Regions from separate parts of the Homo sapiens genome. Here region 1 is linked to region 2. The links come from fine-mapping of genetic effects on gene expression. A gene starts in region 2. The other region holds a variant in brackets. All regions are shown on one strand. Distances are from middle to middle.

The links. PIP is the estimated chance that this variant, and not a neighbour inherited with it, causes the effect. A credible set is the group of variants that fine-mapping cannot tell apart.
Region 1: its variant is the best candidate, but not a certain one, in a credible set for the expression of GPRIN3 in cerebellar hemisphere (GTEx, PIP 0.80).

The regions. Positions count from the first base shown.
Region 1 is chr4:89,280,393-89,288,736 of GRCh38, reverse strand. All of the region lies in intron 1 of GPRIN3 (GPRIN family member 3), which reads left to right. Among named protein-coding and RNA genes, the nearest start is that of GPRIN3, 23 kb to the left of the region's middle. The variant G/T (reference allele first, on the strand shown) is at 4,635.
Region 2 is chr4:89,303,083-89,311,426 of GRCh38, reverse strand. It overlaps GPRIN3 (GPRIN family member 3), which reads left to right and starts at 3,627. Exons shown (of 2, transcript NM_198281.3): 1 at 3,627-3,812. RefSeq lists silencers at 3,548-3,617, 3,628-3,677.

The DNA.
Region 1 (8,344 bases), 23 kb after region 2:
TCATAGGCTAAATTTGCTGCATAATAATATCTCCTGACCTTTAAAGGGTAAAATGTAGTTCAGCCCCAGTTTTAGAAGAACTGCATACTGTTCTGACAAGAGCATATTGTTTTTCTGAAACTCTCATGAGAGTGCCCTGCATGGAAAAACAAATTCCCCTCATCTGGGCCAAAGTTGAATCCTATCAAGGTACACAGAATAAGAACAACTTGCTCATCAGCTGCCTGCTGCCCTCATGTAGAATATATTAAACCTGAATTTCACTCCAGAAGTTTGCATTTATGCAAACTTAGTTGACCCAGAAAATCATTTGTGAAAAGGAAAAAGTTGAAGAGAATATTGGTTTAATATATACCCTTTCAACAATTTCTTATAAATGAGTGACCAAGACAGCATAGAACAACCATCAAATCTATTTGTGTCATACTGATTATATTTTATTCTTGATCTAGAAAGCCAAGCAAGAGCTAGTTGGCTCTGCAAAGAAAAAAACAAAAAACCTTTCTTTGGGATCACATGTCTTTTCTCAAATCGGCCACCTTAAAAATGCATGCAGTTAAGAAGTCACAGAGAGAAAACAGACACGGCTCAGGGACATCTGCCACTGCTCTGGGAAAAACTATCCAATGCCAGGAGCAAGATTCTGTGATCTGCACGGGCCCTCGAGGCACCGAAATTAGACAGTACATTATTCCATGTGTTCAAATGATCAGTCAAAAATCATGAGCGCTCCCAAGAAAATTGATGAAAAGAATTTTTTTGGTCATTATGTGATACAAGTTTGCTGGCCTGACACTGAAACTAGTGCAAATTTTCTTCCATATTTGCAGGGGTCAGTAAAAATCAAGATTATCATGGCATCAGCCTATCAGTCTTTCTTAACTTTAGGATTTATTATGATTTTCCTAATATTCAATAACACTTCTAAACACTCCCAACATTTCTCTCTTCTCTTTCATTCCACATTTTATTTAGTGGAGTCATTCATGTTTTACTCATTTCAGGGTTAGAACTTTGAAATAGTTTCTGGAATTAAATCCATTTTCTTAACCTGGCATTGAAGTCTATTCATAATAGGCTTGTGTCTAGAACTGAATTTCCCAATGAGTATCCCAAGCCCCAGCCCATTATCTCCCCATCCCAGCTCTTCCTGCATATACTTTCAAGTTCCAGGTAACAGTGTACCACAGGGACCACAGTAAGTCTGTACCTCCCTGCCTTTAAATCTTTCCTTAGCCTCTTCCCTCTGCCCAAAGGCTCAGCTTTTAAAACCCAACTCGAATATTTATCCTGTGCTAGGAAATAGGACACAGTTCAATTTGGTCAGTTTCATTGTATTAACCACAGGTTGTAACATATACAACCCCAAAATTTCAGTAGCTTAAGGAAATAAAATTATATGCATTTTTTAAAATCTCTGCCAAATACCTCCAAAACACCTTTTAAATTTATCCTAATGTTAATTAATCATTTGCTTTCTTGCTCTCTCATGGCATTTTTCTCTACATGTCTAGTACAAGAGTTATTTTTCATGGTGTATCTTCCCTGAAATATTTAGTTTTGGAGGCCAGTTTTGTATGTCTTGTATATATGTTTGTATAGCCCCCACAGAATTTAGCACAATGCCTTATACATAAGAAGCCTCAATAAATAGTTCTTGAATTCATTTGTTTTCCATTGAGTTCACTACTGAATTCCTCAAGATTCTGAGGCCAGAGTAGTTGTTTTGTTTTTAGAGACAGGGTCTTCTTATGTTACCCAGAGTGAAGTGCAGTGGCTATTCACAGGCATGATCATAGCTCACTATAGCCTCAAACTCCTGGGCTCAAGTGATCCTCCTGCCACATCCTCCCAAGTACCTGGGAATACAGGCACATACCACTGGGTCCAGCTGGAGTAGTAGAATTCAAAAATAATTTGCTTTCTAAGTACTTTGGGAGTACTACCTTCTAAATCCTTGTAAGATTAATAGTTATTTCTTTTTGTGTGTTGTTTTAAGTGTCTTGGTGTCTTCAATGTAATGGGAGAAAGAAAATATCTTCCCTATCAGTAATTGGTGACTTTTCTTTTTTGAGAGTCTTGTTTTCTCAAAGGAAAAAGACAAAATTAATGTATAAAAGGATATGTACGTAAGAAACAAAAAAAATTGAATTGGGAGTCACATTCTAAAAAACACAAAGAAAAAAGGCAAGAGAACTATAAAACTTTTAAAAGTAAGCTTTCTGAATATGATGAGGTAGATTCTCTGACAAAAAGAAATACCAGCTGTGATAAAGACACAGTGTAGGAAAGCACCAGCGAAAGACAAACTTGGCTGAAAGGGAAATACCAAAGCTTTTCCCAAGCAGGTCCCAGACAAAGAACAAGCAAAAGATTTTGCAGACCATCATTATACCATAGTTGTAATGAACACCATCCACCTGATACCATCTGTACAACTTTAATAAGACCATCAGCAAAAACCAGAGTTTAGTTGAAACTTTCTCATGTTTTGCAAGTTGGTGCTCCTCCTAACTTTTGCCTCCTTTCACTACCATTGTTAAAACAGTCAGAGAATATCACAACTCCTCAAGCATTATTTTTCTTAATTTTTATTAACAAATTAATGTCATCTTAGTTTACATATATATATATATATATATATACACACACACATACACGTACACATGTAATTGAGCAACCTCTGCAAGAAGGAAAATGTCTAAAAGTTAAAGAAAAGGATATGTTCTGCAAAAGAAAAAGTGAGAGAGCTGACAGTCTTTGCAACTGAGGAAGTCAAGCTAGAAAATGATTAATCCAAATGAAGAACTAGTATACGGCTTCTCTTTCCCCTGAGGATAAATTAAGCAGTTGGAGTAGCAGAGTTAGAGATTTAGGCAAAAGAATGAGCATTCTAACAAGCTACTTATCCATAGTAATTCCCTCCCAAACACCAGTTCATAAGCCAGTTCTTCTTGGATACACTGATTTACTTTGCATGCCTTTTCCCCATCTCTGTCAGTTTCAGTTTGTTTACAGAAGAATATTTGAGGAGTAATTATGGAGAAAGGAGATAGTAAAATTTGGGAAAAGTAAAAAGAAGTGAATTGGGTGACAGAACAGGAAGTTGAGATATTTGTGATGCAGCCTGAGGTGTCCAACACATTTTCAGAATTAAAATGTCATGTTATAAAGCATGATCTTTTGGTTATTCTATGATTGTGGAGTAGATGGGGTTGTAACCACCTGGGGGTTCTTCCTGCCCACTGCACAAATAAAGACCATGGCATTGCAGTAAAGAAAAAGTTTAATTGATGCGAGGCTGGCCATGCCACATGGTAGACAAAGTTATTACTCAAATCAATCTCATAAAGGCTCATATGTTTAGGGATTTTTCTTTTTTTTTAATTATTATACTTTAAGTTCTAGGGTACATGTGCACAACATGCAGGTTTGTTACCTAGGTATACATGTGCCATGTTGGTTTGCTGCACCCATCATTTACATTAGGTATTTCTCCTAATGTTGTCCCTCCCCCGCCCCCTGACCCCCCAACCGACCCCGCCCTGTGTAGGGTAGGGATTTTTCAAAGGCAGTTTGGGGGAAGGGGTGAGAGTGGCTAGGTGCTTGCTGCTGATTGGTTGGGGTGGAGATGAAATCATAGGGAGTCAAAGCTGTCTGTCCCCTTGAGCTGAGTCACTCCTCTGTGGGGCCACAGGAGCAGTTTGGCAGGACCAAGTGGAGCCAGCAGTGTCAGACATGCAAAAGGCCTGAAAAGATATCTCAAAAGGCCAGTCTACATTGGTGATGTTATTGCAGTAGTAATTGGGGAAGTTGCATATCTTGTGACCAGCCTATTAGCAGAATTCAGGCTCCTCTCCTTCCCCTAGCCTGATGGTCTCATTCTCATTTAAACTATAATCTAAATGTCTTCCAAAGTTAGCTAGGCCTAGGCCTAAGTCCAAGAATAATTAAGGCAGCTTGAAAGCTAAAGGCAAGGAATGGGGAGTTGGGTTGGCTAGATCAGATCTCCCCCACTGCCATAATATTCTCACTGATATAATTTTTGCAAAGGCGATTTCAGGGTGAGAAAAGGGAGCTAGGGAAGGAGCAGTGGACTTGGAAGGTAGACCTGGTGGTGAGTTCCTGTTAGTAAGAAAGCCCAAGTAATTCTACTACCATAATCACTAATATTATTGCTGTTACTACTAGCTAACCTGTGTGCAAAACTCTCTTCTAAGAATGCACAACAATCCTAGAGGAAGGTGTTATTTTCATTCCTGGGTGGCAAGTGTTACAAACCTTAGGCACTGGGGAGTCAACTAATTTGCCTGAGGCCACACAGCTTGTAAGTGGCCAACCAGATGTGAACCTGAATAATCTGATCCTAGAGGCATTGTTAACCACTGTGCCTCTCACACAGTGAAATGTTTCCAGAAGGTAAGGGACAGTAATTCTGAATGGCTGGCAGTCCTCCAGCATGTGGTCTTCAGCCTCCTGTCTCTGTTCATGCCGTTCATTTGCTTTAGTGGCCTCTTCCACCCACCCATTCCTTCACCTGGCTGACTCCCCATCCTTCAGGGCATTCTGCCCAGCACACCTTTCCAGAATCCTGCTGAGGCCCTTACCTCACCAGCTTGTGGTGGGTACCCTGT[G/T]ATACCATCTGTCATAGCGTTTACCTCAACACAGTTGCTTTTCTGCCTTGTCTTAAAACCTTGGATCCTTCCATTCTTTCATCCTTCGCATTCAATCAGAGGGCACAGCTGATTTGACCTCTTCAGTATTTCTAGGTCCATCCTTCCCTCAGTTCCTGCTGCCAGTGCCCTACTTCTCACAGTTTCACTTACAAAGCCCCCCGCAGTTTTACTTTGTCACACCCTTTAGCCCTATATCTTGCATCCGGAGCTGCAGCCATGCCAACTAAATATTGTTCCAGCCCCACCCCACCCTCAACCACTTCCCCAGTAGGCTGCCTGTATATCTATTCATGCTTGTCCATATGCACCTGAAATGCCCTTTCCTCCCCACTGGTGAAGTCCTGCTTAGTTTTCAAGGCAGCATTGCTGTTGCTTACACTCAGAGGCCTTGGGTGGGCCTTCTCTTAGATATGCCAGCATTGTGCACTCATAACACCCTATGCCGAGCTCTACCAAAGGGCTCACCATTATACCGTAGTCCAGTCTCCCTTTATGTTTCTGCCTCCCCCACTAGATATGAACTTCCTGAAGGTGAGGACTGGCAGATTCCACCCACCTTGTGTGTACCATGATCTGTGTGATTACTTACTATGTTCCTGGTATTTTTTTCCTTCCCTGTTTTGCAGCAGATCTCCACTGGTTCCCCGGAAGCTTTCCCTGATTGCAAAAGTTGGAATGAGTCATTCTTTTCTTGTGTTACCATTGAAATCTGTAGCAATGAAATCACCTTTCTGCCCAGTGGATGTGAGCTTCTGAAGGCAGGAATTGAGCCTTTGTGGCTCTCTAGAACCCACCACAGGCCTGGCACATTGTGTATGTTAAACAATTTGGGATAGCCTAAAAAGTAATGTTTAATGTTTGTGCTACATAGGCCTATTGTTCAGCTGCATGAATTGAGTGAATAAGAAAAATAATTACTCTGAAGGCCTGTCTTTACTTCCTCTCATAGCCCTCAATGAAGCAAGGGATTTTACAAACAAAACACTAAAGGCCTTGGCTATCTTTGTTAATATTAATAACAATCGGTCTTTTTAGGCCTGAACGTATGTGCATAGTGTTCTTATCACTTTCAGAAAAACATTCCTCCATTACCATCTGAGGGTAACATAATCGCATGTGTGGCAAGTCATCAAATTAGTGAATTCTTAAAAGTCCAAGTTATTATATCTTTATTAGGCAGATTTCCACAGATTTGTGAGGTCTTCGATGTAGACTCTGAGACTGTGATTCATAGTTCCCATGACAGCAAAGTGGGGATAGCTCTCTGAGCCACCTCGGGCCACGAAGAGGTAGTTTTTAGTGGGTAAAAATCCCATACTTCTGACAAGTGATTTGTCAGATTAATATTCTACACCAGGGTTGTCCAGTCTTTTGGCTTCCCTGGGTCACGCTGGAATAATTGTCTTGGGCAACACATAAAACACACTAACAATAGCTGATCAGCTAAAAAAAAAAAAAAAAAAAAATTGCAAAAAAATCACATATGTTTTAAGAAAGTTTACAGATTTGTGTTGGGCTATGTTCAAAGCTGTCCTGGACTGCATAAGGACAAGCTTGTTCTACACACTTTGGATCCTTCCTTTCCTAATGAGGCTTATAAATCTGTGAGTTTATCCCAATAATAGATGCACACCACTGAAGCAGGTGAGAGATTACAACCCCTTGAGGGTCAAGGTAACAAGGCATGTTGGAAACATTCCTGACTCCCAGTATCTTATTGTTTACAAAGGATATTTCTATTATTTAGATACTCATATGACATTGATTTTTGTTATAAACTACTATTCAAAACAGTAAAATAAATTCAAAGCAAATAATTCATGATTTGAGATAGGATGGACATAATTCTCATCATTGCTAGTGAATATAGTTAACTTCAGTAATAGAAATGGCTATTCTTTTATGTTACAGTAATTTTGTTGGCAATGCATTATACACGAAATAAAAATCACATTTCTTTAGAGGCATGTTAGCATTCACCAAACAATAACTGTACTTCTTTTTCTTCTTGCCAGCACCATGCAGGATACTGAGACTACCAGGCACCCACTCACTCTCTACAGTACTCTTACTAAAGAGACCAAAAAAAAAAAAAAAAGATGACTGCATAGCAATGCATTATAATAAAGACTTTAGAATGCAATGAGACAACAGAGGAAAGACTTGTAATTAAGGGGGAATGGTTTAGGGATGGGAAAGTGCAAGGAAGGCTTCCCATAGAAGAAAATGCTGAGTTGTGTTGAGATTATTAGCAATGCAAGAAAGAGTAGAGAGGGTATTTTAGTTTCCTAGAGTGGCCATAACAAAATACCACAAACTGGGTGGCTTAAAACAACAGAAATGTGTTCTGTCCTTGTTCTGTGGGCTAATCATCTGAGAACAAGGTGTCAGCAGGGTTAGTTCCTTCCAGTGGCTCTAAGGGATAAGTTGTTCCATGTCTGATATAGATTGGATCTGTGTCCCCGCCTAAATCTCATGTTGAAATGTAATCCCCAGTGTTGGAGGTGGGGTCTGGTGGGAGGTGATTGGATCATGGGGCAGATTTCTCATGCATGGTTTAGTACCATCCTCTTAGTGCTGTCTTCACGACAGTGAGTGACTTCTCTGTGAGAAGTGAGATCTGTTTAAAACTATGTGGCAGCTGGGTGCGGTGGCTCACACCTGTAATCCCAGCACTTTGGGGAGCCGAGGTGGGCAGATCACGAGGTCACGAGTTCGAGACCAGCCTGGCCAACATGGCGAAACCCCGTCTCTACTAAAAATACAAAAATTAGCCAGGTGTGGTGGCGGGTGCCTGTAATCCCAGCTACTTGGAAGGCTGAGGCAGGGGAATTGCTTAAACCCAGGAAGTGGAGGTTGCAGTGAGCTGAGTTCACGCTATTGCACTCCAGCCTGGGTGACAAGAGCGAGACTCTATCTAAAAAAAAAAAAACATGAAACTATGTGGGACCTTGCTCTCTGTCTTGCTCCTACTCTGGCTATGTGATGTGCTTATCCCCCCCCTTCACCTTCCAACATGACTGTAAGTTTCCTGAGGCCTCTCCAGAAACATAGCGGATGCCAGCACCACGCTTCCCATAAAGCCTGAAGAACTGTGAGCCAACTCAACCTCTTTTCTTTATAAATTACCCAGTCTCAGCTATTCCTTTATAGCAATGCAGGAATAGCCTAATACAATGCCCCTTTTCTAACTTCTGGTGGTTGCCAGCAATCCTTGGCATTTTTTGGTTAATAGATGCATCACTCCTATCTCTGTTTCAGTTTCCACAGGACTTTCTTCCCTTCTTGCTTGTGTGTCTGTGTCTATGTCCTAATTTCTTTCTTATAAGGACACCCATCATATTGGATTTAGGGCCCACCCTAACCCTGTATGACTTTGTCCTAACTTGATTATATCTGCAAAAACCTATTTTCAAATAAAATTACATTCACCGGTTCTAGGTGGACCTGAATTTTAGGGGACAGTGTCCAACACAGTAGAGAGCATTCAGGAAACAGGAAGCAGCTTGGAAGAAGGCAGAGAGGCCATGACATATTTGAGCAACCATTGATCCTTCCTTATGGTTGTATTGAAAGGCTCTGGAGGACCTAACAAGAGACATGAAGCTTAAGAGGCAACAGAAGCCTCATCTTACTTGTATGCCAAACTCAAGAATTTGAACTTCATC
Region 2 (8,344 bases):
CTTCCAACCTACATTTCTAGTTTTGTCTCCATTCTCCTGGATAAACCTAACTTGCAAATGAAATGTTCACTTCATCTAATTCACTTGGCAATTAATAATATACCAGCTCAAGTTGCTTCTATTGTTTCTTCTGTTTAAATCCTTTGTGATTTCATTTTTTATAAATTCTGTGTTCCCAATGAAATGACAAACTTCCGTATATCAGTCTTTCTACAAATGCTTTGAGTACAAAAGGCATTCAATAGCATTTATTGATTTCGTTTGATGGACTGATTTAATGTGTATCATCACTCTGAAAACCATCACCCTGTTTAGAATTTGGTGTTGTACTCAATTCTGCATGAGTTTTGAATCACCTTATTCATCACGGAACTGTGTACTGTTTGAGTAGCAGAATTTTTAAAACCTTTGTATTGCTAAAGAGGTCCTTTAATTGTATTTAGGATGTCCCTCAAGGATCATCTCAGTGTCAGTCAGACCAAAAGCAGCTGTACATCTTATATGTCTTTTTCATGAGCATAATCCAATGTGTCCTTTTCATGATTTTTTCATGACTTTGAGGTATTTCTTGTCAATACTGATTTGTTATTGTTGTCTCTTGAATAACTTCCCTGTGAATTTTTAAGCTATAAAAACTTCCCAGCAGTCTGAGAAATGAAACAGAGGAGAAGGATGAATAAGGTCTAGTAGAAACTACAGAATAAGTACTAAATGTGGTTTTGATAGGCAGAATAATGACCCTCTCCAATGATATCTACACCCTGGGACCTATGAATATATTACCTTACATGGCAAAGGGACTTCACAGATGTGATTAAGAACATTGAAATGGGGAGATTACTCTGGGTTATCCAGGTGGACCCCATGTCATTACAGGGGTCCTTCCAGGAGGGATGCAGGAGGATCAGAGTTGGAGGAGATGAGGCAAGAGAAGTAGAGGTTAGAGTTCTCCAACCAAGGAATGCAGGCAGCCTCTAGAAGCCAGAAAAGACAAGGAGGGAACAGGTGATTCCCCTCAGTCTCCAGAAAGAGTGCACAGCCCCTGCGGGCCTTTGATTTCAACTCTAAAAGATCCATTTTCAGATGTCTGACTTCCAGAACTGTTAGCTAATAAATTTGTATTTTATTCAGTTGGTGATACTTTGTTGGCAGCAACAGGAAATGAATACAGTAAGATAGTACAAACAGACCTAGACAGAACTAGAGATAGGTCACAACCTAGTCCCTACCACACATATAATATATTAAATGTATAATCTCAGGAAAGTCACCCTATCTCAGTTTCCTTTCCTGTAGAGTGAAATTATATCTGCCTTACTGTGTTGTATAAAGACAAATAAAATTATTCACATGAACACTTTGCAAAGTGTTTCATCCTATACAAATGTTAGGCCTAAAACTTTGGCTTAGTTTGCTTAATGAGAGGGAGAACTGGAATAAAGACATCTGTGCTTAGCATATTTATGATATGAATACTATGATGACATAAATATTATGCCACAACCACTCCTGTCATAAAGATGTCCTTTTAGAAGCGGCCTAGTGTAGGGAAGATGACCCAGCTCCCTTCGTCTTCAACCAAAATGAACATGGCTAGCCGGAGAACCCAGACAGAGCCAGAGAATCCTTCTTAACCCACCTTCAGGAAGCAGCTATCAATTAACTACACCTGGCATAAAAGAAGAAACTTATTTAAAATCCCTGATCTAGGGGCTTAGAAAGTTTGATCTTTTTTTTTTTTTTTTAATACTTTAAGTTCTAGAGTACATGTGCACAACGTGCAGGTTTGTTACATATGTATACATGTGCCATGTTGGTGTGCTGCACTCATTAACTTCTCATTTACATTAGGTATATCTGCTAATACTATCTCTCCCCCCTCCCCCAACCCCACAACAGGCCCCGGTGTGTGATGTTCCCCTTCCTATGTCCATGTGTTCTCATTGTTCAATTCCCATCTATGAGTGAGAACATGCGGTGTTTGTTTTTTTGTTCTTGTGATAGTTTGCTAAGAATGATGGTTTCCAGCTTCATCCATGTCCCTACAAAGGACATGAACTCATCCTTTTTTGTGGCTGCATAGTATTCCATGGTATACATGTGCCACATTTTCCTAATCCAGTCTATCATTGACGGACATTTGGGTTGGTTGCAAGTCTTTGCTATTGTGAATAGTGCCGCAAAGTTTGATCTTTTGGCCAGTAGCATGGGCATTACCTGGGAGCTTGTTAGAAATGCCTATCCTGGGCCAGGCATGGCTCACGCCTGTAATTCCAGCACTTTGGGAGGCCGAGGCGGGCGGATCACCTGAGGTCAGGTGTTCCAGACCAGCCTGGCCAACGTGGAGAAACCCTGTCTCTACTAAAAATACAAAAATTAGCCGGGCGTGGTGGTGGGCGCCTGTAATCCCAGCTACTTGGGAGGCTGAGGCAGGAGAATCGCTTGACCCCGGGAAGCGGAGCTTGCAGTGAGCCGAGAGCGCGCCACTGCACTCCAGCCTAGGAGACGAAGCAAAAAACAAAAAACAACAACAACAAAAAACTAAAAAAGCGTTTCCTCAGTCCCTACCCCAGACCTATTGGATCACAATCAGCATTTTAACAAGACCCCCTAGGTGAGTCCTGTGTACTAGATGAGAGGATATATTTTGGATTGGTTTGAATCCCAGCTGAGCAGGTTACTACTGTGTGACCTCAAGCAAAGTGTTTAGATCATATAAGCCTGTTTCCTCGTCCACATGGTAAGGCACCTCAATGGGTTGTAGTAAGAATTAAAGAGGCTGAGGCTGTATGTAAGGCATTTTTCACAGAGCCTTCCAACAAATACCCAGTTAATAATGAAGCTCTTTTCATCGTATCATTTTGCACCATCTACAGCTGCTAACCATACTACACATCCATTCAGGATTCTGGAGCTGCTCAACAGGGAAGATTTCCAAAGCCCTCAAAGCCCTCCAAGCCCATGGGGTAGCGGGAAGGGGATGGGGACAGGAACACTGTCAGCAGTGCCTCTCCGAATACGCAGGATACTGTACATTTTGCAAAACATATTACTTATCGGATGATCTTGCTTTCAGATCTCCACTGCACGTGGCTTTATTGGAAACCTTCTGCTAGAGTCTAGACTCAGCCATGGAGTCTGGTGACCTGTGGGAGGGAGCAAGGGCCAGAATGCCTGCTAAATCGCTCTGGGTCCCCAGCCCTCTTCCTTAATCCCTTCTTAACTTTCCATCTGTCTCTGGTCTCCAGGGGTGCAGAACCACAACCCACCAGACCCCTCCTAGCTCCCGGCCCGGCGCTCAGCAGCCTGGGCTGCAACACTTTCCCCCAGGACCGGGAAGGCGGGGGAGGGGGTTTGGAGGGGGCGGAGCTCGGCCTCCTGCTGCCGCCGCTGCTGCTGCCGCCGCCGCCGCCTGCAAAGCTGTCGCCCCTCTCTCGGATGCTCAGGCTGGGCAGCGCTGGACAGATGGGTACACCCCGGGCCTGACGGATGAACAGTCGGGCAAGTGAACTCTCACCTCCAAACTGGCTCTGCGCCCGGCGGGGGCGGCGGCGGCGTCTGCAGCCCCGCGGTGGGGGCAGCCCCCTCGGTCTACGCCCGACTGCTGCGCGCCGCCTCTGCTCTTGGCATAGTAATTTCAGTTCCTGAACGCACGGAGCTCGCTCCGGGACCGGGCTGAGAAGGACCTCAGCTCGCGGGCCCGCCGGAGCCATCGGTGTGGCGCCGAGAGACGGTGCTTGGGATATGCGACGGGAAGCCCCCGCCACAGCGCAGGCAGTGGCCCCGCCGCGCCGCGGAGCCGGGCAGAGCAGGTAGGAGACGCCCCCTGCGCACCTCCGCCTGGCGGCCAGCGCGGGGGACCGGAGCCTGGTGGTGTGCTCTGTAGGGATGCGGAAGGGATTCGGTCCCACATTTTGCACAGGGATCCTTTGCCTGTTGCTCTTGTCTCTGTCCCATCCTGCGCTCTAGGAGGGGCAGTCTTTCTCGCAGGTGATGAATTTCTCTGCAAGGTCATTGCTCTCTTTGGCTCTGGCTTTGAAGGTAAATGGGAGAAGACGCCTGCTGATCGTGGGCAGGGAAATTTATAATCAATCGGGTCTGCACACTGCGAATATCCGAATATGAGGGGTGTGTGTGTGTGTGTGTGTGTGTGTGTGACATTTGTCTCATTTTCCTATGCTTATCCCCTTTAAGGTCAAAACATAGAAATATATATTACATATGGATGTATGTATGTGTGTGTATATACACACACATACATAAATGCATATGTAAATAGGTTTTCTTGAGGTAGGCAGAAAGAAGAGGAAGGGCGGGCAGGGGTTGATAAAGGGAAATCGTTGTAGAGACATGTTCACTAATAGAGGCGAACTTTGGAACCACATTAAATCAGGGTAGAGACTAGAGGTGATAAACGGTTCTTTCAAGATGGGCTTTAGAAGAGGTCTGAAGGAGCCTGTCAGCCAACACACACAGAAGATCTTCATGCTCTCCAGGCAGATGGAAACGATGTAGGCATCATTTCAGACGCAATAATGGACAGTGAAAGAGGGAAAAAAGGAGAGGTACTTAATATGCCACTGGGAAGTGAATTTTGGGTGATGGGAAGGCATCGAATCCAGACCAGGTTTCAAGGGCTTTCTGGAGGGCCATTGGGAGAAATCACCGCTTGGGGTGTAGGCAGTTCAAGGTTAAGACGATGTGAATGTCCACAAAGCAGCCGAGGAGGTGGGCAAAAGGCAAGGGCTTGGAGGGGGAGGGGAGAAACAGAGCTCTGAGCAGTCACTCAAGAAGCACCCACCTTTGAGTAAGGTGTCTTCTTCCTCTTGGTTAAAGCGGTACTTGGGTATGCTCCATCTAAATATTTTCACAACACATTTGTTTAAAGATCCATTGGACTATGTTTTTATTTTGTTTTTGCAAGGTATCTGGGTCATGGTGGGACTAGAAGAAACTGAAGTGTTTACAACACCAGCAAGATTTGGGAGAGAGGGTTGATTAAGGCTTTGCTTCATGAAATATTTACACATCTCCTGCGTGGGCTTTTGTTTGCTCTTGTTGGTGCTGCTGCATATTTTACTTTGATAATGCTTTGAGTGTACTTCGCCCGAATGTGCTTATTTTCCAGTTATAACCTATTCTTTCTTTTCCCATTGTGCTCACCATTGGCCTGCCCTGAGTAACAATTGTGGGAATAAAGGTACATGAGTCACAGCCCAAAGCAGAAAATCTCTGCTGCTATCTGCAAAAGACAGGAGTTTGCGTTAGAGAATGTTCTTTTTCGAGTTTTTGTGTGTGTTTAGTTTTTCAAGTTTTGTGTGTCTTTAATCGAGGGAATAGGTTATTGATTCAAAAGAGAAAAAAAAAACAGCAATTGCAATTGCAGGCCTAGATGTTATATGATTGAAATTTATTTTGGAAACAGCAGAGGAACTCATGGAGAGCCATGTACAGTGTGTTGTGGTGTGGTGAGCCTTCACCTAATCACTAACTAGACTTCTACGAAAATGATTAGGACAAAATCACAAGTGCATCAGCTTCACATGGGAAGTAGAGGACTGAGGCGTTGTATGAGTCAGATCAGTGTCAATTGGAGGGCAGGCTGGATTCCAGCAAGCTGTTTTGAAATTTGAGTGTTTTAATTGCCTCAAAAAAATTGCCCAATATGCTTAATTATTTGTTCCTGCAACATTTTCTTAATTATGCCTCAACATACTTAAAAGACTATATTTAGATCCAGCTATCCTTCACTGTTTGAATTTCCAGTTGCAAAATCTGCAGCTTGCAGGAAACACGGAAATATTGGTCTTGGAATCACAAAATTATAAAATGTTGGGCTCAGAGAAGGAGGACACATGATTCTAGCCACAGCTCTTATTTGAGCTCTTTCATTGGCAGCTGCTCCTGCCCTTTATGCACTCATTCATTCACTTTTTCATGAATATATGTTGATATATTCAACATATATTTAATCCTGGACTGGACATGGTCCTAGATTGTGGAATAGAAGAATAAACAAGACATAGTCTCAGCCTGCAAAACTTGGGAGGGACACTGCCAGCAACCGCTGGTGGAGTGCCCTGACAGGGTGCTGTGGAGGCCAGGGTAGAGGTGGAGAGAATAAGGAGAGTTTCCCATGGACCTGAAAGATGAGAGGACCTAGCCCAGTGAAGAAGAGAGGGAAGGACATTCCTGGCACGGGGACCAAAATAAGCAGAGACCAAGGAAAATACATAGCTCCAGGTGGTTGAAAAACAGTGTGAGTACATAAAGATGGTAAGACGAGAATGGAGAGGGCAGCAGGATCCACCTACAAACTGAAGTCCAAAAGGCCTGCCAACTCATCTGGTCAGTAAACCATTTTATCTGGGTGATTTAGGTGAATGCATTCATTTTGAGGATCTATGGTATTCAGATTACCCAAATTTATATTCTTCAAATATCTAGAAATTATATTTACCTTAATTTACAATAGGCTGCTTAAAGGGGGAAAAGTCTTAATTATTTTTGGCTCAAATATTTCATCTACAAATGTCTACCACCTACTTTGCATATTAGAAAAATAAGAGAGAGAATGAGGGAATAGAGGTTTGAATTATGTAGAAATGAGTTATAAAAATTCAAGGATTCTTATTTTTATGAGAATAGGGCTCAGGGGAAAAGAATGACAAAGAGTGTATATTCTAAGTATTTATTTGTCCTAGATGACTCCAAAAGGCAAACATATGATAGTGTAAAAAACAGACTGAACAAACAAGTAACTCAGGAACACAGGCTAAACAGACCCCAAAGGCCACATACATTTTTAAAAATTATTTTTTAAATGAGAGAAATAGTTACAGTAATCCCATAGTAATCATTAAGTGCCCTTCAAGAATGGTGCTTTTCAAACTAGCACACTGTGAAGTCAGTTTAGTGAGTCTGATCAGCATTTTTATTTTTGAAAAATAAAATACTAAAACAGAAGAGTAAGTATTGTTCATGAAATTCCTTAAATATATATATACGTATGTGTGTGTGTGTGCAAGCCTGCATAATGGACTGTGATATAAAATGTATACCTCATTATACATCATTTTCCAAAAAGTCTGAAAGCTACTGCTTTAAGTGATACAAAGAAGAGATGTTCCCAGTTTGCAAGATGCCAAGAGCCGACCAAGAGATCTGACAGATCTGATAGACAAGCATTTTCCGCAATATTCTGAATAGCATAATTGCCTGATTGAGGAAGGCAAGACTTACAATTTAGTGAGTACATGGCAGTAAAGTCAGAGAGCAAGATCCTTGGGGACTGAATTAATCTGGAAAGGCTTCAAGGAGGAGGGGGATCTTGAGTTAGTTTATAAAAGATGGATGGACCTGGATGTGCAGTGAGGAAGGGGTGCTGATTTCATGTCTATAGAAGGAGGAAGCAAAGAATGAGGAAGTAATGGCAGTTATATTTAAGAATCATTTAGAAAAGAAGAAATAAATATCAAGTTGGAAGAGAACTGCAGTAGAATTTCTGCTTGGACTGAAATATTACATGAGTTACTTTTTAAAAAAATAAATTTCATTGTGTATATTTAAAGTATACAACGTGATGTTATAAGATACATACATACATATTTTATATATTTTTTATATATACACATATATACATATTTTATATTTTTTATATATAAATATATATAATGGTATACATGTATATACATAAAATGTAAAATGGTGACGGTGTCTGTAGTGGAACCAAATAACGTATACATCTTTTATATCTACTACTTTGTATCCTTTGACCTGGATGCCCCCTTTTCCTCCCCTGATCATCTTCACCCTGGTAATCACTGTTTTATTCTCTAGCTCTGTATATTTGACCTTTTTTGAGTTGTTAATTATTTTATGACTAAGATCTATTTTCCTAATACTGCTACTTTAAGAAAATCTAGCCAGAGTGGCCATAACATCATAAATCTGCCATTTCCTGCCATCTTTTTATTTATTTTGCAGTAATTTACTGGTTAGGCCTTGTTCAGTTGAATGTTACTGTTGAACTATTGACATTACGAGATACACCACATTGTGGCGTGATTATTTCATTTCTCAGAATGCAACTACAGTCGTTGGCACAGAAGGCCGAGGTGGTCATGTGAGGAACTGACAGGCTGTGAAGATGAACCAGATCGCTTGGTAGCCATGAACTCCTAAAGGAACGGCAGCATCTGCCATATTTTCTTTTCGTCAGTTGCTCTATGACTTGTCCATCTTCTTAGTTAGATATTTAAATATGTTTGTATGCATTTCTAGAAAATTTATTCTTGTGTTTTGCTGTACCCTAACAGTTATTCTGAAGAGACAAAGTTAGAGA